4 linked regions of the Homo sapiens genome follow. The protein of the gene in region 1 purifies or fractionates together with the protein of each later gene. This does not show direct contact. Each region holds a gene or a part of one and is shown in the gene's direction. Other genes may lie near its edges. The genes, in order: SERTAD4, PPP2R2A, POTEF and ZFP1.

Evidence for each region.
Region 2: the proteins of SERTAD4 (region 1) and PPP2R2A purify together in Homo sapiens (affinity purification with mass spectrometry; 4 studies listed by BioGRID and IntAct, with this or other methods). This does not show direct contact.
Region 3: the proteins of SERTAD4 (region 1) and POTEF purify together in Homo sapiens (affinity purification with mass spectrometry; 3 studies listed by BioGRID and IntAct, with this or other methods). This does not show direct contact.
Region 4: the proteins of SERTAD4 (region 1) and ZFP1 purify together in Homo sapiens (affinity purification with mass spectrometry; 3 studies listed by BioGRID and IntAct, with this or other methods). This does not show direct contact.

What each region holds. Positions count from the first base shown.
Region 1 is NC_000001.11:210,234,705-210,242,795, forward strand, and holds part of SERTAD4 (SERTA domain-containing protein 4), read left to right. Parts: intron 1-2,581; exon of another isoform or gene 2,582-2,764; intron 2,765-3,239; 5' UTR 3,240-3,256; coding exon 3,257-3,431; intron 3,432-4,788; coding exon 4,789-4,904; intron 4,905-6,853; coding exon 6,854-7,633; 3' UTR 7,634-8,091.
Region 2 is NC_000008.11:26,350,183-26,358,273, forward strand, and holds part of PPP2R2A (serine/threonine-protein phosphatase 2A 55 kDa regulatory subunit B alpha isoform), read left to right. Parts: intron 1-4,285; coding exon 4,286-4,451; intron 4,452-8,091. UniProt on the Homo sapiens protein: Substrate-recognition subunit of protein phosphatase 2A (PP2A) that plays a key role in cell cycle by controlling mitosis entry and exit. Involved in chromosome clustering during late mitosis by mediating dephosphorylation of MKI67.
Region 3 is NC_000002.12:130,125,710-130,133,935, reverse strand, and holds the start of POTEF (POTE ankyrin domain family member F), read left to right. Parts: upstream 1-4,713; 5' UTR 4,714-4,864; intron 4,865-6,071; 5' UTR 6,072-6,227; intron 6,228-8,226.
Region 4 is NC_000016.10:75,143,940-75,152,131, forward strand, and holds the start of ZFP1 (zinc finger protein 1 homolog), read left to right. Parts: upstream 1-4,584; 5' UTR 4,585-4,704; exon of another isoform or gene 4,705-4,723; intron 4,724-4,961; exon of another isoform or gene 4,962-5,100; coding exon of another isoform or gene 5,101-5,328; intron 5,329-8,192. UniProt on the Homo sapiens protein: May be involved in transcriptional regulation.

The sequences.
Region 1 (8,091 bases):
CAAATGCTCTCCAATTTTCAATGACAGATGGAAGAAGAAGTGAGCAAAGAATGACCTGGAGCCCCTTGTTAGATTCAAGGTGCCGCTGAATTCATAGCTACCCTGTTTTGTGTGCCAGCCACTCCTATTAGCATCATAATTGCTTCTAGGAAAGAACAAGCCCAACTCATCTGGAAAAAAACAAATTGTATAGAAATGCCTGGTAACTTTACTACGAACATTTGCTGGAAAAGCTTGGCATTCTAGCCCTCAGTCTTCTGGGGATGCTGGAAGTGTCATTCCACTACATCCACCTGGGTGTCAAAACAGACATTCAGGAGCCTGAGGATGAAGGGTTAGGGCTTTTTTTTTTCTTATCTTTTAAACCCATGCATAGACAAAACACACTCTAACACCCTCCTGTTGAATCCATCACCTCTGATCTTAGAAAATAAATTTTGCCATAATGTATATCCTTTTCTTTATTTAATATTAATAGAACACGAATTTGTGGACTTGAATTGCTGACGTCAGTAGCAGAATTATAAATCTTATCAGACAGAGAATTATGACAGTTTAGATCTCTACATATAATACGAAGAAAGATTCACGTTAAGCATTTGTGCTTAACGCTGCCCTGTCCAATTTTTCGTGAACATTCAACTTGCCTTCTTAATTTGTTAACATCCAGTGTAAGTTTTAAATAGACTAGGAAGACTCAATTGCAAAATCTCCTCCCCGCTCCCAAATAATCCCAACTCATTCATGTTTTATTCAGATTTACATAAATCACTTGCAGAACTCAGCCTCTCTAGTTTAGGGTTTTGTGTGTAACAGTTCTCAATTTAAAAAAGAAAAACTTAGTAAAATTAGATATTGTGAACAAAATAATAGCCAAGATAAATACTGTTATGCCATGTTTCAAGTTCACGTGCATAATAGGATATGCTGGAAATAATGCTAACAAATAGAAACGCTGAAATTCCTCACAACCAAAAAAGGTACTACCAAAAAGTTATTAAAATATAAACAAACTCTGACAAACATAAAACAGCACAGGGCCCATATAATGTCCTGTTAAACAAAAGTAATTGCTGCCAGGAGCCTGCAAATGTTTTTCTTTCTTAAGGGGCATGAGTTTGACAACCTGCTTTTGTTTACATGAAATAAAAGTCTGCATAGGCAAAAGGCTTGCATCTTATTCCCATGATCTAACACAAAAGTGAGTGTAAACTTCAAACTAGAAAATGTTGATTCTCTCAATAAGAAAGGGCTGCTGACTGTTGAAAAGCTGTAATTCATGTGCTCTTGGCAATAGTATTTCCTGATATGATTGTCTCTTAGAATAGGTGAAGAAACTGGACAATTTCATGAGAGTCTTCCAGGGAATAAATCATCATGAAGTTTGATACCCTACTTGGATGAGGAGTTTGAGAAATGATAGACAGAAGGACTTAATTTGTTAAATCAATGTAGGCTAAATTTCTTTGTTGATGACTCAAAGAGAAAAATAAATGACATGTCCCATCGTTTCTTTGTAAAGATTTAATCGAACCTTTCTTTTGCCCACTTGTTTTAAGGTTTACTAATAAGTCCGTACTGATGTCTCTTTGGAGGGCATCTTAAAAGAGAACGGGGAGGTGTTGTAGCAGCCCAAACCAGCTGAGTCCTAATTCTCTCCACTGACCTGTACACCTTCCCTGTCTGTCAAAAGATCTTGCTTCATTATTCAGTGTGGTTGGGACAGAATTTGAGACCTCAGAGAGAAGACTGGGTGAAAGGTAGAGTCATTGCTGCCAAGAGCTGCTCTTTTAGCCAGAAGGACATTGTCACTTTAATGATGCTATTTCGCCTTACCCTGGTGTTTTTCCTCTTTTTCCTTGGAAGTGGACCCTTGTTATAGCATGTAGGTAATAATAGTCTCCCACGAGACAATGGTAGATTCACTCTTTCCCAGAAACATTACAAGCTGTATAATTTGGAAAAGAAAGCAAGAACTGGGCCCTTAGTTTATGTTTGAAAGACAATCAATCTTCAGAAAGCCTGACGTCACTTGTGTGACAGTTCTTGAAACCACAGAATGAGATAGTGGGGGCTTGAGTCTCCTAAAGGGATTGGCAGTTAAGGAGGCACTGAGGTTGCGCTACTGTCACCACTGGTCTATGGCTGCTAGGTCTTTTTACCTTCATATCAGACTCTCCTCTCCCTTGAACTTACTCTTGACCCTACCTCGAGACCTGCAAAGGGCCAAGTGAAGACACAGAGCCCCCATGAAAGCGGCCTCACTGCCTGAGCTATCGAGGGGCCCAGGAAGCCTCACAGAGCAGAGAAGCTCCCATCTCCCTGCAGGCCCAAGGGAGAAGGGCGTGAACTGGAGAGAAGGGCAGTGATGTGTTGCCTCTTGGAAAGTTCCTGCTCTGTGTCTGGGCTTTGCAGTGTAAAGAGTTGTTGGCTGCCTCTGGCCCCAGAGCCTGGCTCCTGTTTAATATTCTGCCTGCTCCGTTGATGTTGTGCTTGGCTCCTGTGGGACTGCAACTCACGGCTTGAAACTGGAGCCAATTTTCTGTCTTCATCTCGCAGTGTTTTGACTGGAGGCAGATCCAGTTCAGGCCGATCAGGGCTGGTGGAAACAACTACCAAGTGTCTCTCTGTCTGCTTTGCTTTGGGAGAAGAAAGTGGAGGGAGCCCCAGCATGTTGTAGAGGAACTGGCCTGCGGAAACGAGAGGAGGAGGGTGCAGGGGGCAGCGGAACAGACTGAACCTCAGAGCATCAGTTGGAATTACGGTGGATATTTCTGCTTCCCCTGCCCTTTTCTTTTGATTGATTAGTGGATTTCATCAAAGGAGACTCCCGGGGGATTGACTAGAAAATTGATTTTGCCTTATTAATAGAAAGGAAGCGCAAGGGTTTTGGCTTCTTAGCAGTACATTTTCTTTGGAAGGTCAGGAGGAAAATGTGTTTAGGAGGCAAAGCAGCTGTCTAGAAGAGGGCTGAAGGGAATCTGAGAACAATAAGAAATGGGGTTTTAAAGATCCGCCCATGAAATGCAGATTGCTGAACACAGAGGCTGAGCTAATAGCAGCTAGAGAGTTTGCTGAGGTTTTCTTTGAAAAAATAATAAAATGTTTCAGGGTAAAGGGGAGGGCCGAGAAGTAAAAGTTTCCCAAAGCAAAGAAATGAAGATGCCAAGGCCGTCCCTTGGCTTGCTCTTGATTAGGGCTGTTTTCTTCATTCTTGTTTTTTTTTTTTTTCTTTTCAGATCTGAGGCTGTCAGAGATGACTCTGGTTCTGTCCATGAATAGATTCTGCGAGCCCATTGTCTCGGAAGGAGCTGCTGAAATTGCTGGGTACCAAACACTATGGGAGGCTGACAGCTACGGAGGCCCAAGCCCCCCAGGGCCAGCACAAGCTCCTTTGCAGGGAGACCGGGGAGCTGGTCCCCCACTGGCAGGTATTGCCCTTGACCTGCGCCCATCCCCCCCACCCCTCGCTGCCCTTTGCAGCCAGCCTGGTGGACAGGAGGTGGTGTCTGGGGTGCCCCTCTGAGCCAGGAGAGCTAAAGCTCCAGGGACTTCCCGGGCTGCCTGTGCGCCTCTCATAAGTGAGTCCAGAGCTCCAGAGAGAGGACCAGAGGTGATATTTAAATTGCATTCAAACCTGTGTCTACCCATGCTGCTTTTTGAATATAAGTCATGTGTCTGTATTTTTAAGAGGGCCAAACCAGATATTGAAACTCTGAGTTTGGGTTTTGGTTTTCTACCCTGTGGAACTGTATGGTTCTCTCACAACTATGAAAGCTCTGGTGGGCTCAACAATGACACCTTTATCCCATGAGATATAAAGGAATCTGCACTTTGGGCCAGCAGCTATGAGCTTCTTTTCTTTGTTAACCCATTTATGCCCAGTGTTCCATTATTGGAACGCTAAGCTTGTGGAAGTTATTTATATCCTACTGCTCAAGGTCATCACCAAGGTCTGACTTTTCAAACACAAAAAAATTTGCAACCTATGGCATAAATGGGTAAAGCACACAATTGGTTTTAGGATTGTAGGAAAAAAATTTAAAGCCAAGAAAATAGAAGTATGTTCTTCCTGATTCTTTCTTCTTATAGTTTAAGTTCCTTTGGATTTTTTTGCAGTATTAGCTATTTTTAAAAGAAACTAAAATATAAAACAAGTACTCAATGAAGTCTGTTTTGCTAAAAAAGATTAAAAACTGTGGTCTTCATGGTTGGCATACTACATTTTGGAGAGTGAAAAGGACATTAGTTACCCAAAATTTTAACTCAAATTTTAAAAATTTGAATTTTGTATTTTGAAAAAAAGGAATGCTATAATCCCAATGTGCAGATAACCATTTGTTCACTAACCTAAAGCCAATAAGATTTCAAAGTTGTTTGGTTATCAGTGGTTACAGTTAAAGATGTATACATCTTTAACAGTGGTGCTATGTTGTCATGAATTTAATTAAACAATTTAAATAAATACTAATATATTTTAGAGAAATTACACTCCTCCCCTTTATGAATGTTGCAGTTTCCTTTTGCATAGAATTAAGATTCTGCATATTTATTAAATGCTAAAATATGTGATTTTCCTCTATAATTGCCTAGAAATCTTTTCCTAGCCTGGGTCACAGGATTCCATATGATAGCAACTATTAAGACAAATGTTTATTTTTAATCACCACATGTACAGACAAATATGTAGCCAAGTTATCCTCTAGAAGGAAAGGAAACGAAAGTATTTTGTTTGGAGAACCTCTGGCAAACCGCATGTCATTTGTCATATCTGATTTATTACCACAGGATCACATTACAGGGGAATTTCAAATCCTATAACAACATCCAAGATCACATACTTTAAGAGGAAGTATGTGGAAGAAGAGGATTTTCACCCACCACTCAGCAGCTGTAGCCATAAAGTATGTTTTTTTAATAGTCATTATTTTTATTAAGAGTTTAAGATACTTAGTAACAGTTGCTTGATCCACTTCCAGGAATTAAATTGTTTCACCCAAGCAATGAAAATGAGCCACTTCTCAGTGGAGCCTCATTAATCGTTGTCGCTTTTTTGGGTCCTGTGTTATTTTTCACAAGTACTTGAAGAAAAAGCTGGCAAGAGCTATTCTACCCAGAAATGTCAAAATTATGTAATCCAAGGAATTTTTTTTAACGTATGATTTAATATTTCTCAGACTGTGTTTTGGGTTATGGTTCTTCCACACTTTTGTGTGTGGGGAATGCGCTCGTTCTTTCCTGTCATGTTCTCCCCAGTCTGAGTTCTGGCTCCTGCAGCCAATGCTACTTCCCTGTGTGTCCACATGGGGGTGGTTACACAGGGCTTTTCCTGACCTCTTATGGGTAGACTCATCATCCTTGAATGTGTGTATACAAGTAGAAATATGCACTTCACTGGACATGGGTTACATATAAGTTTGTTGAAACATGGACTTCATTTCCAGGAAAAGACCAAAGCTAACTTTTTTGTAGGTATAGTTAAAAAAAAAAACAAGATGGGGAAATTGCATAGAATTATGAATCTGGGCATCTAAGCTTTTGAAATATCAGTTCATTTTTCTTTAGAGTTACCTTCCTTCAATAACTATCTGCTGATTTAATCAAGGCAGGTATAAGCACAGACCATAGTTGTCTGAAATGCAGAGAGGATTTTCAATTCTTCTTCCTCTCTGTCTCCTCTTGCCTTCCCCCTCTGCCACCTCATCCTTTAGATGTTGCTTTTACCTTGCTCATGAAAAGACAGCAGAATGCATTGGTAGGTACTGGGCTTTTCCCTGCATGTGTAGTCCCTGCCTTTGGTCAGTATGGGCTGGTTTAGTTCACAGCTCCTCAGGTTATGGTGCCAGTTTGCTTTTTTGATGGCCTGGAATAACTGGTCCCCAGGACACAAGCAGTTTATTTCCTTTTTAGTTTCTGTGTTGTGGTTGTAGCAGTTTCCCAGTTGCTACTGGATTTGCACCAACCATCGCATAGTGACAGTGTCACACAGCTCAGGAGTGAGCCCTCTCATTTCCTCTCGGCATCTCGTCTCCCACTCAGCTCCACAAGGAAGCCTACTTTGGTCCTTCAACTGACACATTCTGTCAGGGTCTGAGCCTCATTCATTAGTGTGTCCTCTTATCAAGCAAGGATAATTGCAAGTATGAAACCCAAAGGATTAAAAGAGGGACAGCATTAAAAGCCAAATCTCATGCTCCTTCTTGGCTAGACCAGGGTTTGAAGTATATTCATTATGACTTGCATTTTGGCATCATTTTAAAAACATGTATTGATGTACAATATATGAGTTATGTGTCTGTGTGTGTGTATTTGTATAGACACACATAAAAAAGTACAGGTATCACAGTACAGCTTGATGAATTTCATGAGGTCATGTAACTAACATCCAGGTCGAGAACCAAAACATAACTAGCAACCAGAATCTTCCTTCTGCCGGCTTCTAACACTACCCCTCGCCCCGCTCACCCCAACTCTGAAAGTACCTCCTCTCCTGACTTCTAATAGCTTAGATTAGTTTTGTGTTTCAGCATCTTCCTTATTGGGCCATAATAGATCAAACCACCTGAACTGTCCCTCCTGGGGCCTGCACTGTGGCTCGATTCCCTAGTGCTTGACCACACCAGTGAGTCAGGAAGTGGGTGGGTGCTCCAGCCAAGTGAGGAAAGGGAATATCAGCAGAATGGGGGACAGCCTCTCTAAATTAACCCTGCGGAACAAGACCACAACATGCCCAGACCCAGACAGTGCCAAGAAAGAAGTATGCTATGATGATGTTTTCATATAGTCCATTTTCTAAGCTTTCTCTCTTCCTTTTTCTGTTTGTTTTTTTCTTTTTTTTTTTTTTGGTTTGTAGACCATCTCAATTTTTGAGGAACGAGCCCACATCCTTTATATGTCCTTAGAAAAGCTAAAGTTTATCGATGATCCTGAAGTGTACCTCCGAAGATCTGTCCTTATAAACAATTTGATGAAAAGGATCCATGGAGAAATTATCATGCAGAATAACTGGTGCTTCCCTGCCTGCTCTTTCAATGGCACCTCTGCCCAAGAGTGGTTTATGGCTCAAGACTGCCCTTACCGAAAACGACCACGGATGGCCAAAGAGGAATGTGAAAAGTTTCATGCCTGCTGCTTTTACCAAGAATGTGGTGGCCACTACCTAAATTTACCCCTTTCTGTCAATGCTAATGTTGGAAGTGCCTCCACTGCTGCCTCCTCTCCCTCCGCCTCTTCTTCCTCCTCATCTTCCTCTTCCTCTCCCCCTTTGCCTTTACCGAGTTGTTCCCGCCAGGTGGATTTTGATGTAGGTAGTGCATCTATTTACAAGAGTGATGGCCAGATACCTGCCAATGAAATCTTTGTCACTAATGTCAGATCACTTGGTGTTCAGGAAAAGGCCAAATTAAATGATGAGAAAGCAAATGATGACACCAACAGAGATGGTGGCCCCCTCAGCCACGAACCTGTGGGAAATGACCTTGCTTTTGAGTGCAAAGGCCAATTTTATGATTATTTTGAGACCGGATATAATGAAAGAAACAATGTAAATGAATCTTGGAAAAAGTCCTTACGGAAAAAGGAGGCTTCACCACCAAGTAACAAACTGTGCTGCAGCAAAGGAAGTAAAATATGAGCCATCTTCTCACCGAACTTTGAAGCATGCACAGCATGATCAGTTAGCTCTCGTAAATTTTATTTTGAATGGATTTTGTAGTTTTGTACAACAGATAAAATTATGCCATGAACATGCCATGTCGTTTTAATGCCTGGAGAGCAGATTGCGTAAAACATCTGTATAGCAGGCATCAGCGAGCTTCTTATAAATGTGGTGATTTTTACCAAGGAAACGATTGACTTAATGCTTAAAAGTATATCATAGTTTTCTTACGGAAAAGATCAGTAGATGAGATTGGGGGACAATGTGCCCTTGCAATATTTCCATTGCCCCCCAAGGAGCCTGTCACTAGCTAAGAAATTTCTACATGTTTGCCAGTTAATTAGGGAGTTATTTGGTAAGCAAATCAATATAACCAGCAAAGATACCTGCTTCTTCTATATGATACAATATTTTTTTTAAATAAAAGACTAAAG
Region 2 (8,091 bases), on another chromosome or scaffold:
CCTCCCAAGTAGCTGGGATTACAGGCATGCACCACCATGCCCAGCTAAATTTTTGTATTTTTGGTAGAGAGAGAGTTTCACTGTGTTAGCCAGGCTGGTCTCGAACTCGACCTCAGGTGATCTGCCCGCCTCAGTCTCCCAAAGTGCTGGGATTACAGGCATGAGACATCACGTCCGGCCTTGTACTTACTCTTGTGATTCACATTGAGATTGAGTAGTTGTTGTGTTGTTTTGAGACAGGGTGTTTCTTTGTTGCCCAGGTTGGAGTGTGCAGTGGTGCGCTTACAGCTCACTGTAGCCTCAAACTTCTGGACTCAAGTGATCCTTCCCACTTCAGCCTCCCCAGTAGCTGAGACTACAGGCGTGCACTGCAACACTTGACTAATTTTTTTTTTCTCTCTCTCTTTTTTTGGTAGGGATGGTCTCACTGTGTTGCTGATCTTGAACTCCTGACCTCAAGCAATCCTCTGTCTTGGCCTCCCAAAGTGTTGGATTACAGGCATGAGCTGCGACTCCTAGCCAGAGCTGCTTTTTATATGTTTATTGGCTATTTGGATGTTATCTTTTGGAAGTGACTATCGAAATCTCTTATAATTTTCTGTGTTGTGTGTCATTTTTCTTACTGATTTGTAGACTTTCTTTACACTTTTTGTAGATGAACTCTTTTTCAGTTACATTTGTTGGAGGATCCAGGGGCAGTGGCTCACGCCTGTAATCCTAGCACTTTGGGAGGCTGAATTGGTTGGATCACTTGAGCCCAGGAAATTGAGACCAGGCTGGGCAATATAGCAAGACCTCATCTTTTTTAAAAAACAAAACAAAACAAAACAAGAAAACCCACACATTTGTTAGAAGTATTTTTCATTCTGTGACTTGCCTTTTCATTTTTTTGAATAGTATATTTTTATAAATAGAGATTATTAATATAATACAGTTGATCAGTATTTTTCTTAGGGTTACTGGTTTTTCTGTCCTGTATAAGAAATACTTTTCAACCCCAAAATCCAGGGAAGACATTTCCGTTATCTTTTAGAACTGTATGACTGGTACTGTAGCTACTAGATCCATGTGGCTATTCAGATTAATGGGGAGTTGAGTCTGTTCTCTCTCCCCTAATGCAAGACCCTGTTGCAGTGGTCCCTGTCTCCATGGCCCTCTTTAAAGTCAGCCTTACTACCTTATAAATAAGTAAATAAATAAATTTAAATTATTAAAAATAAATTGTAGAATTAACTTCCTTAGTTGCAGTAGCCACATTTTAGGTGTTCAGTGTGTGCCTAGTGCTCAACATGACTAGTGGCAACCATACTGGACAACACAGATACAGACTATTTCCATCATTGCAGAAAAGTTCTCTTGGGTCCTGTTATCCTAAAACTTAATTATTGTACCTTCACATTTATATCTCTTATTCATCTGTAATCACTTTACGAGTGGTTTTGGGAAGGGGTCGAGCTTCATTTTATTTCCTATGAATAGTCAACCTAACACCATTTAGTGAAAAGACCATCCTTTCCCCATTGCCCAGCAAGGCAACCTTTGTCATCATTTAGGCCTGTTTCTGGGCCATCTGTTCTGTTTCATTGGCACATTGGTGTATCCTCATGCCAGTACACAGTCTTTATGACTTTGCTTTAAAACTTGGTTATGATGTCCTTTAGTGAATTCTGTTAGCATCTGTGTTGAAAATGTGTGATTTTGGTTTTGTGTCCTGTGTTTGTAATGTATGTAAAGTATGTGACATAGCTCATTCTAAATCCTGCTTTGAAAGTCTTTATTGAATGCCTGTTATATGTGCCAAGTACTGTTATAGGTGCTGGGGAATAAAGCACATCTAAACTTACTGTAGAAACTTTCATGCAAATAGATTGTATGGTTAGGAAGATGATTCTCATAGTGATCATAAAGGCAAGCAAGAAAAGAGAGGGAGGTGAAAATGCTGTGCAGGTAAAGCCAGTATGAATTGTTGAAGGATGTGTCACAATTCTGTATGACTGTAGGAGAGGTTTTTAAAACAAAAACATTGTGTTTGATTTTGATGCATTCTCATTTGAGTGGCTCAGTGTTGAGTATGCGGTTATGTGTCTTCTTATTCAGGCTTGCTCACTGTACTTTGTTTGTGCAGGGAACAATGCTATCATGATCATTATAATGTAAACATCCCCTCCCAAAGTGTTAGGAAAAGTCTGCTGCAGCTCCCTGTGGTCTACTGTCAGTTACCACTTGTACCCATCTGTTTTATAGCCTCTTCAGTTTTGTTACTGCTGCTGTCATTTCTGCCATTACTCTTTGTCCTGTGGACTTGTTTTTAAAAGTTCTGTTATGATCACTTTAATAAAGTTTCAGGAGAGAGGGGAGGCTAATGCATGTGCTCAGCCTGGCATCTTGAGCTTTTTAGACAGAATTTTCTCCTTTTGTGATACATTAATTTATTTCCTGTTGCAAAGAGATGGAGCTTCTTGCAGTCCACGAAACTGCCATATACCTCTATGATTTTGTTTTTGGATTCTGTAAGATACCATGTTTAGTAGACCTGTGTTGTTGTCCACGAGTCTACAGGAAGATGTTCATGTTTTGTTTCAGAAAATATTTCTGTTGTTTTGTGCTTTTCTTAACTCATCAAATACAATGTGTGGCTCGCCCTTGGCCCTTCATATTGCTTACCTTAATTGTGTAGACCATAACCAGTTTCTACTTTGACTAAAGTTTGACGTACACAAGTTACTTGAATGTGGGGATTCTGTCTATCCCTCTACGCCCTAGTGTACATAGTACTATATATTATAGTCTCTTTAAGTGTTAAATGAAAAACCAGTCTAAAATGCAGGATTTATATTAAAAATCGAGTTGCCTGCTTAATGGTATTGTGGTTTCCTTGTAGACTATAATGATAAATTTTGTGAGACTGGGTGAGTCATTTTAGGTAAAAGATTTGTGGAGCTTTAAAGTGATACTGGAGTATTTATATATGTTAATGGAATAGGCTGTCTAATTTTGTGTATGGGTATGGTGATGAGACCAAGGCTCTGAGTCTGATTTTTACCCCTTGTGTATCCCCGATATGTGGATCGTTTTGTGGGACATGTATTCTTAACATTGGCAGACTTGCCCTCTAATAACTGATAACTGCTGTCCAAGGGTTCAAATACAACCATCCATGAATGAACAACCCAGATCATCAGGCTGCTGGAAAAAACAACCCAAAACATAGACTTTCAAGATGATTCAGTGAAGTTTCCTTTTGATATGGAGAATAGTAATAGGCTGTTTTTATTATCAAGAAGTTCTAAACATTTCACTGGGTAACTCACTTTTACTTAAAATAGTTGACTGTCAATAATATCTCATTCTATTTTTTACTTAAACTTTTTCCATAGGTGGTTCTTTGAACTAGACTTTCAAATTTTTTTATGAAAATGTTTTTAATCGTGTGATAATAGGTCAAAAGATGAAATTCTGAACATGATTATAATTCTCACTTTTGCTGAGATATTAATGCTAACCAGAGTAGTTCAAAAGTAGTCCCTTTATGAGATAGCTTAAATTACATTTTTTCAAAGTGATACTAAATGAAATTAGTCATCAGTGTGTGCCAGGTTCATAAGATGAGAAAGCAAATTTAAGGCGAGTAAGCAGTTGTTGATGGGGGTGCATGGGGCCATTGCTGGGTAGTGCTGAATATGGACTTGATTGGTAGCAAAGCTGTCTGGAACAGTGGTCTTGGGGTGGGAGGTAGGGGTCAAATGGTATCCCTTCTTTTATAAGAGCTCTTTTTTTAAGCTTTCAGCAGCGAAATAACCAAAAGGCGGGCAGCAGAAAGGAAAAGGACAATACATCATATTAAATAACAGATCGGGGAGTTGACCCTAAAGTGGGCATAGGAAGAAGGTGTGCCTCACCTAGCTCTTTCTGGGCAAGACTTTATCATTATTTTTAGATGAACTTCCTTATTATGGGTGCTCAGTTTTTTTTCATCAGTTTTTTTCATAGACTATACCATCAAATACATAAGAGTAAATTAGCAATCAAATTGATCCATATTTAACGTCATTATTTCCCTAATGAATTGAGCTTATTTATTCAGCTTTATTTAGCCTTTTCCCCCGTTAAGTTTTCTCATTTAATCCTTGAAGGCCTTTAGAAATATAAAAAACAGAATGTAATTGTATAAAGACACAACTAATGGGGTATTGAGAATGTGCAGGGTCCTTTGGAATTGATTACATATTTGATTATTTTGAAATATTTTTCAACAATGGTCCATATATTTTTGTTTTCATTTTAGAACAAAATCCAGTCTCATAGCAGAGGAGAATATAATGTTTACAGCACCTTCCAGAGCCATGAACCAGAGTTTGACTACTTGAAAAGTTTAGAAATAGAAGAAAAGATCAACAAAATTAGGTGGTTACCCCAGAAAAATGCTGCTCAGTTTTTATTGTCTACCAATGGTAAGTATACATATTTTCTTTCCATGTGCCCACTGTGTGTACCTGTTGCACATATCCTGTAGCCTAGGAGAGGAATCATTTAACAGAGATACTTGTAAAAAGGACTTTTGTTTTTCTATACAGAATGTAAACTCTACTTTTTTACTGTCACTTGCAGTTTTTAGATTCTCTGAAAGATTCTCTGATAGCAATTTTTTGTTTACTACACCTCCAATTTGTAGTGAAAAGAATGGGCTGCTATACCATTGGATTTAGGTCAGGTAATATTTCTGTCATTTCTCAGTCTCGTAATCTTGGGCAGGTTACTAACACTGAATTGAATTTTCCTCAGCAGCAAACTAGAGATAGCAATTTTTTATTATAGTATTATTATGAATATTAAATAACTTCACATACATCATGAGTGCAAGTGCTCAATAAATGTTAATTTATTCCTCCTTTTTAAGTGTTTGTAAACTACACAGAGTATCTCAAACTGCAGATACAAAATACTCAAAGGATGGTCTCCATTCCAGGATACGCTATAGGAGAGCACTTTCTTACTTGATCACCATTAGCATATTGCCTTCTTCCCAGCAATCCACATGGCTGGAAGGAGATTCCTCTCCTACTGTTTACTTGCCAAGGGAACATTTTTTGTTGTTTTTTGAGACAATGTCTGTCGCCCAGGCTGAAGTGCATTGGTGTAATCACAGCTCACTGCAGCCTCGACCTCCCTACCTCAGTCTCCTGAGTAGCTGGGACCACAGGTGAGTGCCACCACACCCGGCTAATTTTTTAAAAACATTTTTGTAGAGACTGGGTCTCCCTATGTTGCTCAGGCTGGTCTTGAATTCCTGGGCTCAAGCAGTCTGCCCCGCTCAGTCTCCCAAAGTGCTGGGATTACACGTGTGAGCCACTATGCCTGGCCCAGGAAAAGTTGAGTGAGGATTAAAAGTTAGTAATGACAGGCCGGGCGTGGTGGCTCACGCCTGTAATCCCAGCACTTTAGGAGGCTGAGGCGGGTGGATCACGAGGTCAGGAGATTGAGACCATCCTGGCTAACATGGTGAAACCGTGTCTCTACTAAAAATACAAAAAAATTATCCGGGTGTGGTGGCGGGTGCCTGTAGTTCCAGCTACTGGGGCGGGGGTGCTGAGGCAGGAGAATGGGGTGAACCTGGGAGGCAGAGCTTGCAGTGAGCCGAGATCGCGCCATTGCACTCCAGCCTGGGCAACAGAGCGAGACTCGTCTCAAAAAAAAAAAAAAAAAGTTAGTAATGACTCTACCAGAATTTGAAATCCTTTATGATGAGTTGGGTGCTTTCTCTTTGTTCTTATGAAAAACTTTTTCCTGTGAATTGTTTGGACTTTGTTGGGGTCTTGAGTCTAAAGGGAATCATTAGAGTGACTGAGGAGATACTTTAGTTTCTGGGTAGCCGTAGTCTATAAAAATTTGTGATTAAAACTTTTTTGAGGTTGGTGCTAGGGTGAGGGGAACCTCTTATTTTCTCATCCCCTCACTATTAATTTAAAAAGCAAATTCTAACACCTAGACCATAAACATTTGCAGAATATATACTTAAATGACTTCAGGATGAAATGGGGGAAGAAATTCAGCACTTCCTCCATCTAATTGATGCCCCTCGTCCACAGTATTAGTTCTTAGAAATGCTGTTCACAAATGCCTGATGGCCATCAGCGTTGGCCGCCTCCTGGGTGCCCGTTTTTCTGATCATGAAAGCTTTCCCCAGCCAGTCCATTGAGATGCGTACCCTCTGCCTTCTCTGTTTTCACAATAGACTGCATTCCCCTCTCTTGTCCTTATTAGAAGAAAAATAAAGAGAAGTAACTATTTAAAGCCTGTAAATCACAGCACTATGGGTGGAGGGAACAGTTTATTCCTGTCATATGCTAGCTTCTAGTCTTGGGTCAGTTTTAATTTATATGGTAAACTAAGTTATTTCAAATAGCTTCAAATATTTTAGACACTGTTCTTTGGCATCAGATGATACATAATTAAACCATTTATATAATTTCTACTTTTAGAAGTAAATGTTCCTAGGGAAATGTGTTGTTAACATTTTATATATTGGAATATTTTTATGTCAGTTTATTTCTTATAGGGCTACATCAGCTTTCTTATAAAGAGAACTTTTTAAATGTAGGCTGAGTTCAAGAGAATAGTATAGTGAAGCCCTGCATGCTCATCATCCACTTCTGACACTCCTCAGTTCATGGCTAATTTGTGTCTCGGATCCTTCCCCTTCCCCTCCTCCTCAGTGTTATTTCGAAGCAAATCCGATTACAACGTCTATGGATTAAATCTTGTTTAAAGACATTAGAGAATGCATTGTAGATTTTTGTCTTTTGTTTCTTAATACTAAGTAAAATACAGCTAACTGGGGGCTGCATTTTTTAATGCTAAAATAAGTGCTTAATAATAGAGTCCAATGTGGAAGGATAAAGCAGATTATGAGAATCATATGAACTGTTGTGTCTGGGTAGATGGGAAAAGGATGGGAGGAGTAGGACTTGAACTATATCTGAAAAACTATTTGGAAAGAAGGAGACTTAGAGAAAAATGTCAACATCTGTTGATTCTGAGTGATATCTTTTATATTATTTTGTGTATTTTTCTCTGTGAGTTTTTTCTGTGAGCATAGTAACACCCCCCCCCCCCAATATAATGGGTCTATATAAAAACTATATCTGTGGGAGAATGATGGAAAATAGTACCAAACTTTCCAGGTTTGATTAACCAAAATTAATCTTATAAAAATATTTGCATTGGCTTTCCATGATCATTATATGAACTGGGTTTCCCAGATCATTTTTACTTAAAGGACGTCATAGTCACCTTATAACTTGAGTTAATTTAATGTTCCTTCAAGCATTTTAATTCTCTTTCTCTTTAATCTTCTTTTGCTCCTCTGAATTCTCATTAATTCCTCTACATTGCAGAAAACATGAAACTGACCTGTCAACCATGAGTGTTACATATATGAATAATGTAAAGTTCACTCATAAATAGGGTGTGTCTTAACAACTTCTTGATAAGTTTTTTAGGGTCTTACATAAAGCTGCATTCCCACAAAGGAAACGGCAGCGTGGTTTTCCCTGCTCATACCTCTCATACCTTCTGCTTGTGGTGAGAGGAACTCTGTTCTTCTGCAGTTTCTCCAATGCTTTAGTTATTAGTGTTGATAATTCAGGGGAACACCACAGTGTGGTCGTTTTGGAAGGAACAGATCTTGAGAATCTAATAACGTCTCCACTGAAAACTGTGTTTTTACATAATCTCACATACAGTTTTATGGAGTTTGATTATTCTCACATACTTTGTCTTATGGGCCAAAAACTCCAGGTAATAAAATATCACTGCTGTAGAACATAAGGATTCTGATTTTTTAAAAATTTATGTCATATTTATTAACATACTGATTTATTTCCTGCCTGCCTTGTCCCCACCTTACTGAAAAATGTATCCTAATTCATATGTGTCCTGTGTTTGTGTTAAGGAAAAAACATTTTTTAAAGAGCTTTCTTCCTGTAAACACTATTAGGCACCACAAACTAATTTTATCTCATCTGAAAGTTTCATAAATACATTGTGGTTTCTTTATTTGGATCTTTAATAAGGAGGATGGATTTAAACAGG
Region 3 (8,226 bases), on another chromosome or scaffold:
AAAGACTATGCATTAGGCCAAAAAACAAGTCACAACACATTTTTAAAAACTGAAATCATGGCCGGGCACGGTGGCTCATGCCTGTAATCCCAGGACTTTGGGAGGCCGAGGGGGGCGGATCACAAGGTCAGGAGACAGAGACCATCCTGGCTAACACAGTGAAACCCCATCTCTACTAAAAATACAAAAATTAGCTGGGCGTGGCGGCGTGCGCCTGTAGTCCTAGCTGCTGGGGAGGCTGAGGCAGTAGAATGCCGTGAACCCGGGAGGTGGAGCTTGCGTGAGCCAAGATCGCGCCACTGCACTCCAGCCTAGGCGACAGAGCGAGACTCCGTCTCAAAAAAAACAAAACAAAACAAAACTGAAATCATATCGAGTATCTTTTCTGACCACAGTGGAATAGTACTAGAAATCAATAACAGGAGGAAAAACTGTACAAATACATGGAAATTAAAATACATGCTCATGAACAACCAATAAATAAATGAAAAAATAAAAAGAAAATTAAAAATTTATTGAAAAAAGAAACACAACATAACAAATCCTGTGGGATGCAGCAAAAGCAGTTGTAAGAGGAAAAGGGCATAGCTATAAATGCCTACATCAGAGAAAATAGAAAGATCTCAAATAGCCAACCTGACAGTACACCTGAAGTAATGAGAAAAACGAGAAAAATAAAATACTAAAATTAGCACAAAAAATATCATAAAGATTAGAGAAGAAATTTTAAAAATAGAAACAAAAAATACAAAAAGTCAATGGAACAAAGAGCTGGATTTTTTAGAAAAAAATCAAAACTGACAAGCTTTAACTAGACTAAGGAAAAGAAAAACAAAACAAAATGATAGATGAAAAAGGAGACATTACAATGGATAACACAGAAATATGAAGGATTGTAAGAGATTACTAAAAACACCTATATAAAAACAAGTTGGAAAATCTAGGAGAAGTGATAAATTTCTGGACACATAACAAATTCCCAAGATAGAATGATAAACAAAAAACCGGAACAAGATCCATAATGAGTAATGTAATTAAAGCAGTAATAAAAAGTCTTCCATCAAACAAAAACACAAGAATCATGGCTTTATTGCTGAATTCTACCAAACGTTTTTTAAAGAGTTAATACGAATTTTACTCAAAATATTCCCCAAAAAATGAAGAGAAAGGAAGTCTTCGAAACTTGTTCTATGAGGACAGCATGACCCTGGTACATGGTACAAAAACCAGACCAGGAAACAACACAAAAAGAAAACCACAGGCATTTTAAATATCCCTGATGAACACAGATGCAAAAAAATTTTCAGCAAAATACTTGAAAATTGCACTTGACAACACAATAAAAAGATGATCTGCCATGATCAAGTGGGATTCATCCCAGGAATATGAGGATGATTCAATAAAACACAAATAAATGTGCGACATCACATTCAGCGAATCAAGAACAAAAACCATATAATCATTTCAGTAGATGCTGAAAAAAATAAAAATCAACATTCCTTCATGACAAAAACTGGACAACATGAGTACAGAAGGAACATATCTCAGCGCAATAAAGGCCATATATGACAAACCCACAGCTAACATCATAATCAATGGGGAAATGTTTAAACTCTTCCTCTAAGGCCTGGAACAAGTGTGGCTACTTTTACGCCACTTTTATTCATCATAGTACTGGAAGTCCTAAGTGGGGCAATTAGACAAGAGAATGCAATAAAAGGCATCCAAATTGGAAAAAAGGAAGTCAAACTGTTTGTTTGCAGGTGACATGATCATATATATACACAGAGAAAGAGAGAACCCTAAAGATTCCACAAAATCACCTACTAGAAATAATTTAGTCAAGTTGCAAGATACAATATCAACATATAAAAATCAGTAGCACGCCCATGCACCAATAGTGAAATACCTAAGAAAGAAATCAAGAAAGCTATTTCATTACCAAAAAAATTATATCTAGGGATAAACTTAACCAAAAAGACAAAAGATCCCACAATGGAAACTCTAAAACACAGATGAAAGCTATTAAAGCAGACACAAGTAAATGGAAAGATATCCCATGTCCATGCACTAGAAGAATATTGTTAAAATGTCTATATCACCCAATGTGATCTAGAGAGTCAATGCAATCCATGTTAAATTACAAAAGACATTCTTCATAGAAATAGAAAAAAAAAATCCTAAAATTCACATGGAAACGCAAAATACCTCAGATAGACAAAAGAATCTGGAATAAAAAGAAAAGCTGGAGGCATCACACCTGACTTCAAAACATACTACAAATCTGTAGTAAGCATGGTAATACCAAAACAGCATAATACTATCAAAAAAAGGGGCGGGGGAGAAACAGAAACGAAGGAATGACAGACATAGACAAGTGAAACAGAATAGAGAAATCAGAAATAAATTCACCCATTTATGGCGTACTCATTTTTAACAAAGGCACCAAGAACACACATTCGGGAAGGACAATCTCTTCAATAAACTGCTAGGATAACTCAACACCCACATGTACAGGAATACATCTAGGCCGTTATCTTACCATATACAAAAATCTACTCAAAATAAAGATTTAAATGTAGGACCTGAAACTATAAAACTACTAGAGAAGAAAACATAGGATAAATCCTTCATGAAACTGGTTAGGACAAGGAATTTTCAAATAGACATCAAAAGCACAAGCAACAAAAGCAAAGATGTAATTACATTAAACTTGTCAAAAGCACAAGCAACAAAAGCAAAGATGTAATTACATAAAACTTAAAAGCTTCTGCAAAGCACAGGAAGAAATCAGTAGAACGAAGAAACAACCCAGAGAATGGAAGAAAGTATTTGCAAACTATGCATCAGCCAAGGGGCTAATACACAAAATATATAAATAACTACTCAAAAGCAAAAATACAAATAATCTGATTAAAAAAAAATCTACCCCAAATCTTTGTCTCCCACCATTATTTTCCCACCTTCTTTTCCCGACCGCCTTTGGCCTCCTCCCCCTCGCCACCTGTTTTCTTCCTCCATCTACCCCAAAACTTTTTCCCCACCATTTTTCCCCACCGTCATTTCGCAAAGCCTTCTCTGCTCTCTCACTCACCACCCTTTTCCCCATCCACTTACCCACTTTCCCCACTGTTTTTCCCACCGTCTTTTCCCTTTCTCCCTGGCCACCTTCTTTTCCCCCATCCCACTCTCATCACCCTCTTTTGCTCCTTCATCTAAGCAAAAACATTTTCTCCCGTCTTTTCCCAAACCCTTCTCCTCACTCCTGCTGCTCACCACTTTTTCGCCCTTCATCTACCCGAAAACTGTTTTCCTCATCGTCTTTTCCCCCGCTCCTCCTTGCCACCCTCTTTCCCTTCTCTACCCAAAAACATTTCACCATAGTCTTTTCGCAAAGCCTTCTCCCCACTCCTGCTCACCTCCCCTTTTCCCCCTCCATCCACCCCCCAGAATATTCCCTACTGTCTTTTCACAGTCTTCCCCCCTTCCCACTCGTCCTCTTCTTTGCCCTATCCTGCTTGCCACTCTCTTTTTTGCCTTCCATCTACCCCAAACTATTTTCCCATTTTTTTCCCAACTCTCTTTCCCTGCTCCCTCTCGTCACCCTCTTTCCTCCTCCTCGTTACCCTCTTTCCCCCCACCATCTACCCAAACACTTTTTACCCACTGTCTTTTCTTTCTCCACCGTCTTTCTTTCCTGCCCACTATCTTTTTGCAAAACCTTGTCTTCCTCCCGCTGGCTACCCTTTTCCCTTCCCCCACCTGTTACCCTCTTTTCCCCCTCTATCTACCCAAAACCTTTTCTCCCCACTGTCTTTTCACAAAACCTTCTCTCCCTACTGCTCAACGCTGTTTCTCCCCCCCACCACCCTCTCTTTCCTCCTCCCTTGCCACCCTCTTTTCCTCCTCCATCTACCCATAAACATTTTACCCACCATCTTTCTGCAAAACCTTCCCTCCCTCCCGCTCCCCACCCCGTTTTTCTCCCTCCATCTACCCAAAAACTTTTTTTCCCACTATCTTTTCCCCACCGCCTTTTTGCAACGCGCTCTCCTGCTCACTATCCTCTTTTCCCTTTGGCACTAACCACCCTCTTTACCCCCTCCATCTATCCCAAAACTCTTTTCCTCCTCTTACCGCTTCCGCCGCACTGCCGTCTCGGTCGCGGTTACCACCAGTCGCAGCGAGGCGAGCCACGGTGTAGCGGCTCCAGCCTCCAGCGTACGGCTGGTGATTACCCATTCCTGGTCCTCTAAGCCGGGCACTGAGCAGCTCCACAGGAAAATACGGGAACGTGGAAGAGCCTGACTTCCCTTCAGCAGCAGTCATATACCGAGATTATATACAGGAGGATTCCTGACTGCATGTTCTGATTGGATGAGAAAAACCCTCCAGGGTTACTTGGATTGGACTTTATTATCATGTTCTGATTGGATGAGAGCCAGTCTTAAGACAACCAATCACAGCATGAAAATAAAGTCCAATCAGAGTAGGCCTAGAGGTTTTTCTCTCATCCAATCAGAACATGTAGTCTGGGAACCACATGTGCGTAACCTCAGTAGGTAAAGCATGCGGAGGTGGCGTCAGGTCATTTCAGGCTCTTAAGTGTGGGCGTTTGGTATCCGGCATGGCTGCTACCTGTTTCTGGCTGGAGCCTCGGACACTGGCTCACTGCAGTTGGTGGTGTCGACAGTGGTAGGAGGGCAACCAGTAGCGGGAGCTTCTCCTGCCAGGCAGGAAGACGAGTAGAAGGGAGCGGCATGCTGGAGGCTGGAGCCTGAGCCCCTGGGGCTCGCCTTGCTGTGTTTGGTGGTGACGTGGGACACTGCAGCTCGGCCAGAGTGGTAGAAATGTCCTGGTGTAGGTGAGTTATCCGGGGATGTACTGCCCGCCTGTGGGGGCAGGGGTTGGGTGTCCTATTGGGGCTCACTACCCGAGGCTGCACTGCCTGTGTCAGGGGGCTGGTTGGGGGCACTCTCCGAGGTTGCATTGCTGGCGGTGGAGGGGGGCGGTTTTGGCTGGCTGTCCGGGGCTACACTGCCCGTGGTGGCGGGGGTGATGGGGGGGAGGCAGGTTGTGTGCACTAACGTGTACTGCCGGTGGCGGGGGAGGGGTTAGGGGCACTATTTTCTGCTGCACTGCCCGGGGCAGGGAGTGGTTTTGGTGGTTATTTGGAGCTACAATGCTGGCAGCGGGGGGTGGTTTAGGAGTGTTGTCGGGTGCTGCACTGCCCTTACTCAGGGTGCGCTATCAGGAGCTGCGCTACCTGTGGTGGGGTGGGGGCGGCGATTTTGAGGCATTGTCTTGTGCAGCAACACCTGTGGCTGGGTCAGGTTGTGGGCACTATCGGGTGCTACACTGCCTGTGGAGGGGGTGGTTGGGGGGGGTATTGGGGTTACACTGCCTGCAACTGGCACAGGGTGTGGTGGGTGTGCTGTCCGGGGGCTACACTGCCGGCGGCAGGGGTCAGGTTAGGGTTGCTATGGGGGCTATACTGCCAGTGGTGTTGGTCGGCTGCAGAGGTGGTGGGGACAGCAACAGCCATGGTCTCCTTGCTCCTTCGGGTGACTCTTCTCTTTTCCAGACTCCAGAGTTCCTCCTGGTGCAATCTTGAGCAGGGCAGGGCCCCCACACCCACTGCGGTTCTCCGGCCTGCACCTCCCGCCCACACCCCATGCTCTGTGTTGGGGAGACCACCTGGGACTACCGGGTGGGGATTAGTGGGCATCGCGGGGGACTGTGGGAACAGGGCACTGTGGGTGGAGGTGTCAGGAATGGGAACCAGCAGTTGAGTGGGGAGGGCTGGCTGGGTCTGAGTTTCTCCTACTCCTGCTCCCCAAGGAGTGCAGCCCTGGTGGGCCCAGCAATTTCTGGCCAGTTGCACCTGGATGGGGGTGGTTTCAGCATAGGCACTCACACCCGCCCCAGTTCCTGGCCACCTTTTGCCAGAAAGAGAGGCTGGACTTCGGTGGGTGGGTCTGAGTGCCTTAGCTGAAGCTGGTCCCTGCCACCCAGTGGCCAGCATGACAAGGTGAGGCTCTAACGTTACCACTCCCTGCATCCCATTCTAGGCTTTTCTGGCTTTGCCCGTCTAGCTGCTCCAAGCCAGGCTGGAGGAGGAGGAGAAGGAATCACCTGTGGTACGCTGGAGCCTGCATGTGGCGTGACTCTGCAGCTCGCCTCGTGTGACTGATGGCAGCCACGGAGACTGCAGCTCGACAGGAGTGGTAGGAGGGTGCCCGCGGGGGCAAGGTGGTAGGAACCTTGTAGGGTGGGCTGCTGCATTGATGGCGACAGCAATTGTATTGGCATTGGTGCTAGTGGTGGTAGTGGCAGAAAGTCTGGGGACTGGGAAGGGGGAGTAGGAGCACTGCAGGGCCCAGTCCGACCTGGGGTGGGGACGAACCTGCTGGTGCTGTACCATGGGCCTCGGTGGCAGTGGTGGAGGTGCACTTAGGGAAAGGAGTCCTCCCCCTTCTCTTGCAATCTCTGGAGGGTGGCCTCCTTCTGAGCCAGGCATGAGTGGCAGCATTGTCTCATTCTTAACAAAATTTAGGGGGTGACTGTGTGTGTGTGTGTGTGGCTTTTTTTTTTTTTTTTTTTTTTTTTTTGAGACAGAGTCTCGCTCTTTTGCCCAGGCTGGAGTGCCGTGGTGTGATCTCGGCTCACTGCAAGCTCTGCTTCCTGGGTTCACACCATCCTCCTGCCTCAGCCTCCCTAGTAGCTGGGACTACAGGCGCCTGCCACCACGCCCAGCCAATTTTATTTTTGTATTTTTAGTAGAGATGGGGTTTCACAGTGTTAGCCAGGATGGTCTAGATCACCTGACCTCATGATCCACCCACCTTGGCCTCCCAAAGTGCTAGGATTATAGGCGTGAGCCACCACTCCCGGCCATTTTTTCCTTCTTTTTTGTTGTGATGGTCTTGGACTTTTTCAAATTTTGTGAATTGGGGAGGGGATAAAAGGTGTCATAATAGGCCTTCTAATTCCTGCACCTGTTCTTTTTGCTTATTCTAGTCTGTGTATTCTTCTCATCTTCTTGTTCCTCTTCATTTTCTTTTGCTGCTGCTTCTATTTCATGTTTCTATTCTTGTTTCTCCTCCTCTTTTTGTTTTCTTTATGCCAAGCAATGGCCTTAACAAACAACAAGCCAAAATTGTCACTGTGTTGTATTTTTAAAATAACTGGTCCTTTACTATGTTTTAGGGATGAGGAAAAAAATCAGTTGTATAATTAGTTACTTGAATAGCTATGCTTTCACGATTGTGTTAAACCACTTATGCCTAGTGTTCCATTATTGGAATGGTAAGCATGAGGGAGTTAATTACATCCTACTGCTCAAGGTCATTAGAAGGTTTGATTTTTCACTCGTGCAAAAATTCAAAAAATTGCAGCCTCTGGCATAAATGGGCTAATGCGTTGTAAGTAGTTATTCAGAGAATCAAAAAATGAAGCATCACATAAAAATATTGGTGGCAAACAGCCATTTCATCTCTCTCACATATTTGGAGCTATGCAGGAGTCACGGGGTAAGTTCTAATTTATGAGATTATTAAGTGAACTGTATTGCCTTCATTTTCTCTGCCACCATTTCCTTTGTTTTCTTTCTTTTTTTTTTTTTTTTTTTTTGAGATGGAGTTTTGCTCTTGTTGCCCAGGCTGGAGTGCAATGGGGCGATCTCGGCTCACTGCAACCTCCGCTTCCTGGGTTCAAGCAAGTCTCCTGCCTCAGCCTCCTGAGTAACTGGGATTGCAGGCATGTGCCACCATGCCCAGCTAACTTTGTGTTTTTAATAGAGATGGGTTTTCTCTATGTTGGTCAGGCTGGTCTTGAACTCCCGACTTCAAGTGATCCACCTGTCTCAGCTTCCCAAAGTGCTGGGATTGGAGGTGTGAGCCACCACGCCTGGCTCTCTGCCACCATTTTCAAGAGTATTGTCATCTGCCTGAGCAAACCTGGTTCATCACCACCTCTTTGCAAGAGAAAAAGGAAGTCGGGAGAATTGTGTGTAATTTTTTTTTTTTTTGAGATGAAGTCTCGCTCTTGTCCCCCAGGCTGTAGTACGATGGCCCGATCTTGGCTCACTGCAACCCCTGCCTCCTGGGTGAAAGCAGTTCTCCTGCCTTGGCCCCCTGAGTAGCTGGGATTATAGGTGCCTGCCACCACGCCCGGCTACTTTTTGTATTTTTAGTAGAGATGGGGTTTCACCCTGTTGGCCAGGCT
Region 4 (8,192 bases), on another chromosome or scaffold:
CACTGCACCGGCCACCAGTGGTGATATTAATGTAGTTGTTTGATACTGTATAATAAAAGGTGTCAACATTTAGAACCTCTGCATGAGCTGGCCAGGTCAGCAATGTGTTTCTCAGAAACACCCGCTACACTTTCTCTTTATTTTTCAGGGAAAATTAATAGAGGACAATGTGGTTGTGAATTTTAGAAGGTCTTGAAAAGTACAGCCCACACACGTGGTGCTTACTCAGTGCTGTTACACATAAGGCGGTAAGGGGAATTTATCTTGTGTGTATGTGTGTGTGGGGGGAGTTCTCCATTCTCTTCGTATAGTTCAGTGTTTAGTCTTTTTAAAATATGCATAGTTTTTTACAAAAATAGGATTACGCTGCACATATTCTTGTGTGATCAGTATTATTTCATTTCTCAATGAAATAACCCCCACGTGGGTAATACACATTATCCTTTTTAGTGTTTCCCCAAATTCTCCTTACATATCACCACAATTTATTTTACGTTTACCTACTAAAAGATTTTTAGATCCTTCCCAAGGTTTTGCAAATATAAATGGCAATGTGAGGAACATTCTTGTATATACATCTTTCCATAAGATTATAGGTTATGGTAATTTATAATTTTTAAATGTTGGTATAATAAGATCTTCAGAAAAATTTGATGTGTACACTCACATCACAATGTTGTATATCCATCACCACTTTCTCCTTCCAGAACTTTCTCATTATCCCAAACAGAAACGCTATACCGTTTAAGCACTAACTCCCCATCCCTTTTTATTCCAGTCCCTGGTAACTCTGTTTTACTTTCTGTCTTTATAAATTTGCCTATCCTAGGTACGTCATATAAATGGAATCATACAGTATTTGTCCTTTTGTGTCTGCCTTCTTTCTTTTTTTCTTTTCTTTTCTTTTAAGAAACAGAGTCTCATTCTACTACCCAGGCTGGAGTGCAGTCGTGCAATCATAGGTCACTGCAGCCTCGAACTCCTGGGTCAAGTGATCTTCCTGCCTCGGCCTCCTGAGTAGCTGGGGCCACAGGCACATGCCACTACCTCCAGCTTGGCTTATTTCACTTAGTGTATTTTCAAGTTTTAATCACGTTGTAGCGTGTACCAGAACGTCATTCTTTGATATGGCTGAATAATATTCCACTGTATCCATTCATCAGCTAATGGACACTTGGATTGTCTCCACCTTTGGATATTGTGAATAATGCTGCTATGAACATTGGTGTAAACACCTTTCTATGAACCTGTTTGAGGATATTGTTTTAATTAAAAGCAAGCTGCTACCACTACATACCTATTAGAATGGCCAAAATTCAAGACACTGACAACAAATGCTGGTGAGAAATTGGAGCAACAGGAATTCTTATTCATTGTTGGTGGGTGCAAAATGATGCAGCCACTTTGGAAGACAGTGTTGGCAGTCTCTTACAAAACTAATGATATGGACAGGAGGCAGGAGGGCGGGATTCCTGGTGAGGGTTCTTACCCTCAAGCTTGGACCCATGGCCCTAAATGAGAACAGGCATTCCTGTTTTCACGCCTGTACGTTGCCTTTTCCAAGACCATTGTGGCCCACCCTGCTCTCTATCCTGTGCCCATAAGAACCCCAAATCCCAGGCTCCACAAACAGAAGAGCAGCAGAGGGGCAGAGGGGCAGAGCTGCAGAGCAAGGTGGTGGAGAAGGAGAAAAGAGAAGAAGCAATTGAGCATTGAAGAGGTAGCTGGATGGTCAGAGAGGAATTTGGCCAGGGACAGCAGAACTCCAGGGGACGATTATCTTCCCACGCCATCCCCTTTCCAGCTCCCCATCCTGCTGAGAGCCACCTCCCTCACTCAATAAAACCTCTGCATTTACCATTCTTCAAGTCCATGTGACCTGATCCTTTCTGGATGCTGGACAAGGACCTGGGTATTAAGAGGGCAGGGTGTAAAAGGCTGTCACCCTCACTCTCCACTGAGCTGGTTAACGCTTAGCTGTCCATGGATGGCAACTGCTAGAAGAGCATTAATTGTAACACACCCCTAGATGCTACCATGGGGCCAGAGCCCAAAGGTGCTCACCCTGGCCCTGGCACCCACTTGCCTCTGTGCTCCCCCTCCCATAAGGGGTTTTAGCACAGTGGCTGAGTAAGCTAGCCACGACAAGTCCCGCGAAGGGGTCCAGGGAACTCTCCTGTCTCATTAACATACTGTTACCACACAATCCAGCAACCATGCTAATTTTTTTTTTTTTTTTTGGAGACGGGGTCTCGCTCTGTCGCCCAGGCTGGAGTTCATTGGTGCAATCTCGGCTCACTGCAAGCTCCGCCTCCCAGGTTCACGCCATTCTCCTGGCTCAGCCTCCCAAGTAGCCGAGGCTACAGGTGCCCGCCACCACGCCCGGCTAATTTTTATTTTTGTATTTTTATTAGAGACAGGGTTTCGCTGTGTTAGCCAGGATGGTCTCGATCTCCTGACCTCGTGATCCGCCCGCCTCGGCCTCCCAAAGTGCTGGGATTACAGGCGTGAGCCACTGCACCCGGCCGCAACCATACGATTTACCCAAATGAACTGGAAACTTATATCCTCACAAAACCTGAACACAGATGTTTAGAGCAGCTTTATTCATAGTTGCCAAAACTTAGAAGCAACCAATGTATCTTCAGTAGGTGAATGGATTTAAAACACTGGTACATGCAGACAGTAGAATATTATGCAGCACTAAAACGAACTGAGGCTGGGCACAGTGGCTCATCCCTATAATCCCCGCACTTTGGGAGGCCAAGGCAGGAGGATTTCTTGATCCCAGGAGTTTGAGACGAGCCTGGGCAACATGGCAAAATGCCATCTCTACAAAAAATACAAAAAATTACCCAGGCATGGCTGTGTATGCCTGTAGTTTTAGCTACTTGGGAGGCTGAACTGGGAGGGTCACTTGAGCCCAGGAAGTGGAGGCTGCAGTGAGCCATGATCGCACCACTGCACTCCAACCTGGGTGACAGAGTGAGACCCTGTGTCAAAAAAAAAAAAAAAAAAAAAAAGCCAGGGTAACTTGAGGGAAACATGAGGGAAACTTAAATGTATATTACTAAATGAAAGAAGCCAATCTGAAAAAGCAACATATGTATGATTCCACCTATATGACAACCTGCAAAAGGCAAAACTATGGAGACAGTAAAAATATCAGAGATTTCCAGGGGTTGTGGGATGGATGAATAAATGGAGCACAGATGATTTTTTGGGGGGCAGTGAAACTATTCTGTACGATACTGTAATGGTTACAGGCATTTGTCAAGACCCATAGAATGTACAACATCAAGTGAACACTAATGTAAGCTATGGACTTTGGGTGCCAATGATTTTGTTTTTTAATTTATACTTTTTGAGACAGGGTCACCCAAGCTGGAGTGCAGTGGCACAATCTTGGCTCACTGAAACCTCAGCCTCCCAGGCTCAAGTGATCCTCCCACCTCAGCCTCCCGAGTAGCTGGGACTACAGGTGCGTGCCACCATGCCCGGCTAATTTTTGTATTTTTTTTTTTTTTTTAAGAGATGAGGTTTCACCATTTTGGCCAGGCTGGTTTCAAATTCCTCGGCTCAAGCAATCTGCTTGCCTCAGGCTCCCAAAGTGCTAGGATTACAGGTGTGAGCCACTGAGCCTGGCCAGGTGCTGATATTTAACTGTAGGTTCACCAATTGTAACAAATACACTGTTCTGGTGTGGGATATCAACTTTGGGGAGGTTGTGTGTGCTGGGGGGACATGGGTTATATGGGAATTCAATGTATTTTCTGCTCAAATTTTGCTGTGAACCTAAAACTGTTCTAAAGGATGAAAGGAACTGAGGGTGAAGGGAAATGGGAAGATGGTGGTCAAGGGGTACAAAGTCTCAGTTATGCAAGATGAGTAGTTCTGGGGAGATGCACAGCTATGTGACGATAGTTGACAATATTGTGTACTTGAAATTTGCTAAGAAGATAGATCTTAAGTGTTCTCATCAGACAAATAACTATGTGAGGTGATGCACATGTTAATTAGCTTGATTATGGTGAATATTTCACAAATGTAGATATCAAGTTGTACATCTTAAATATATAGATCTCAACAAATATATATACCTCAACAAAGTGGCCTGGGAAAAAAGGGAAAAAAGCTAGTTGCAGCACATGATACCTTTATGGCCAGTTTTGTAACAACAACAAAAAAATCAAAGTGCGAACTTAATGTTATACGCAGTTAATCTTTAGAAAGTGAGATTATGGATACTTTATTTTGTACATATATTCTAATTAAATACAGTTATAGATTATTTGTGTAATGTTTAAAAGCCAAGTTGTTGTATTTAAGGGGGAGGTGGTGAATTGTAGTTCACGACCCACTCTGGGAAAAAAGAAAACAGTGCAGGCTAAGGAGATTATTTTGGTCGGCTCATCAGACCGCCTAACAAGGCGAAGACTTTCCTGAGAGTCCCTAAAGCCGCGGCCCCGGAGGCTTGTGGGAAATGTAGTCCCGAACGTGGATGGTCCACCCCTCCGAGGACCCTGGGAACGGCCCGCGCCCCTGTTTCTGCGCATGTGCAGTGCTGCGAGCGCGCCGGTGGCCGCCCTTCCCCCACCACCAGCGGCGAGTGGGTGACAGAGCCCCCGTCTCCGCGCGTCTTCGCCGCCCTGCGCCGTGACCCGCTGTGGCACTGGGCCACGAGTGGAGGCTGCGCCCCTCCAGGTACGAGAGGGGCTTCCAGGTAGCTCCGCGCGGCCTGGGGCCGAGGGGAAGGAGATGAGGGATGGGCTCGTGCCCGCGCAGGGTGGGAGCCCAAACTTCGGCTACTCGTAGGCGGCAGTGACCCTCAGGGCGGCGTCCGGGGTTGCCCGGCGCTCGCCTCTGAACGGGGCCGGCGGGGCACGCCTGGCCGAACGTGCGGGGGCGGGGACGGCGGAGGGAAGGGCGGCTATGAGGCTTCGCCTTCTTCTCTTTGTCAGGAGATGCGCCTCAGACGGGCGGCGAAGGGCTCGGGCCGCGCGGGAGCGAGTTCTGGAGCCCCGGCGGGCGCGCGCGCGCGGGACGAGGCCCCGCCGGGGCGTGGTGGGGGCGTGGCCTGACACACCTGGCCACGCCCCGATGCCCGGTGCCTCGTGGGTGGAGGAAGGACTGGAGCCTGGTCAGTTGCCGGTGGTGAAGGAGAACCGTGATCCCTTTGTCAGAGGGTCTTCAGTGAGGTGTTCCCCTGATCCTCGCATCCACCCCGTGACTTCCAGCGTTATCATCTCCGTCGCTATCCCAGGAACACGGGAGGTTCAGAAGGGGAAAGTGATTTCCCTAAGGTCTCACAACCCGGTGGTACTTTATGTGAGCAGCAGATATTTTTTCATTTATCTTTTGATTTTACTCGCTGGTAGATTTTGCCATGTATACGTTTTGACGTTTTAAATTTCTCTCGGGTGGAATTTACTGTTCTTTCCGTTTGGGGCACCCAAAATTCTTCACTACTTTGAAATACGAAAGTTTTCCCATGATTCTGGTGCAGTCACGCTCTGCGTAACAGTGTTTCTGTCAACGAGGGACCTCATGTAAAATGGTGGTCCTATGTGATTGTAATACTATATTTTTGTATTGTACCGTTTCTTTTCTTTACTTTCTTTTTTTTTTTTTTTTTTTTGAGACGGAGTCTCGCTCTGTCGTCCAGGCTGGAGTGCAGTGGCTTGATCTCGGCTCACTGCAACCTCCGCCTCCTGGGTTAAAGTAGTGCTCTGCCTCAGCCTCCCGAGTAGCTGGGATTACAGGCGTGAGCCACCGCGTCCGGCCAGACACAATTTATTGATGTAACTGTTCCTCTAAATACTACTTTAACTACATCACTCAAATTTTTATATCTTGTATTTTCTTTTCTGTTGTTGTTGTTTTTGAGACTGAGTCTCACTCTGTCACCCAGGCTGGAGTGCAGTGGCACTCAGCTCACTGAAACCTCTGCCTCCCGGGTTCAAGCAGTCCTCCTGGCTGGGATTACAGGCACCCGCCACTACACCTGGCTGATTTTTGTATTTTTAGTAGAGACGGGGTTTCACCATGTTGGCCCGGCTGCTCTAGAACTCTTGACCTCAAGTGATTCTCCCGCCTTGGCTTCCCAAAGTGCTGGGATTACAGGCATGAACCACTGCACCCAGCCTTTTTATTGTGTTTTCATTACCATTCAATTCAAATTTTTTTAACTTCCCTTGTGACTTCATTTTTTACCCTTATTTATTTAGATTGTATTGCATAATTTCCAAGTTTTTGGAGATTTTCCAGATCTTTTTTTTTTTTTTTTTGAGACAGAGTCTCGCTCTGTTGCCCAGTCTGGAGTGCAGTAGCGAGATCTCGGCTCACTGCAAGCTCCGCCTACCAGGTTCACACCATTCTCCTGCCTCAGCCTCCAGAGTAGCTGGGACTACAGGCGCCCGCCACTACACCTGGCTAATTTTTTTATTTTTTTTTGTATTTTTAGTAGAGACGGGGTTTCACCGTGTTAGCCAGGATGGTCTCTATCTCCTGACCTGGTGATCCACCTGCCTCGGCCTTGCAAAGTGCTGGGATCACAGGCGTGAGCCATCGCACCCGGCCCAGATCTTTTTATATTATTGATTTATAGTTTAATTCTGATTTGGTCAGAATACTGTGTTACGAATTTCAATTATTTTAAATTTGTTGTGGTTTGTTTTTGTATTGTATTTTTGTTTCATTTTGTTTTAGTAGACTCCTGGTCTCAAGTGATCCGCTGACCTTGGCCTCCCAAAGTGCTTTACAGGCGTGAGCCACTGCACCAGGCCTGTTGTAGTTTGTTTTAAGGTCGAGGATATGATGATCTCTCTGGGTAACTGTTTCGTGTGTATTTGAATAAATATTGTGCTGTTGATCGTAGAATCTTCCTTGATTGATTGATTGATTGAGACAGGGTCTGTCTCTGTTGCCCAAGCTGGAGTGCAGTGGTTCAGTCACAGCTGTCTGCAACCTCAAACCTTTTGCCTCAGCCTCCCGAGTAGCTAGGACTGCAGGTGTGCGCCCTAATCCTTTTGCCTCAGCCTCCGGAGTAGCTAGGACTCAAGGTGTGAGCCACCACACTCAGCTAATTTTCTGTATTTTTTGTAGAGACGAGGTTTTGCCATGTTGCCCAGGCTGGTCTCAAACCCCTGGGCTCAAGCAGTCCACCCACCTTTGCCTCCCAAAGTGCTGGGTTTACAGGCATGAGCTACTGTGCCTGACCCTCTTTTTCCATTCTTTTATCTTTTTTTTTTTTAATTTCCTGACTCCTACAACTGATCATCCTTTTACTTTGAATGTAGCTATGTTTTTATATTTTAAACAAACTGCTTATAGACAGCACATGGTTTGGTCTTACTTTTTTTATATAATTTGACCTCTGTTATTTAATTGGTGTGTTTATGCCAATTATTGATATAGTTGTGTTAAAGTCTACCATCTTGCTGGTTTTTTTCTGTTTTTCTTATTTGGTCTTTGTTTCTGTTTACCTTTTTTTCTGTCTACTTTTGTCTTAAGTGGGTCTTTTTTATAATTACATTTTATCTCCACTGTTGTCTTATTGTATATTTGTAAAAATTTAACAGAGTTTTTGGTTGTTACCCTAAAGTTTAGTGGAACTTTAAAGATATCATACTGTTTTATGTCAATATACTTGGAACATTATACTCCCAATTTCATCCTCCCGTCTTTTGCATTATTGTTGTCATACATGTTGCAGAATATTGACATATGCTGTAAACCCACAAAACTTTGCTACTATTTTTGCTTTAGATAATCTTTCACAGTGATTAAAAGCAAGAAAAAGTATCTATTGTGTTGATCCTCATTTTAACGATTCTCGAGATTTTCATTTATTTGTGTAGATTCAGGTTTTTGTCTGATATCATATTTCTTCTATTTAAATAACTTCATTAAACATTTCTTCTAGTGCAGGTCTACTGATAATGAATTCGCTATGTTTTTGTTGTTTGAAAAAGGTTTTTTACTTCATTATCATTTTTGAAAGATATTTTTGCTGGGTATAGAATTCTGAGTTAATAGTTTTTTGCTTTAGTTGCTTTTTTGTTGTTGTGAAAGCACTTTCAGGATGTCACTACTTTGTTTTCTGGCTTAGTTTCTGATGAGAAGGTGGCTATGATTCATTATCTTGATTTTTCTACATATAATATGTCTTTTTTCCTCTGGCTACTTTGAAG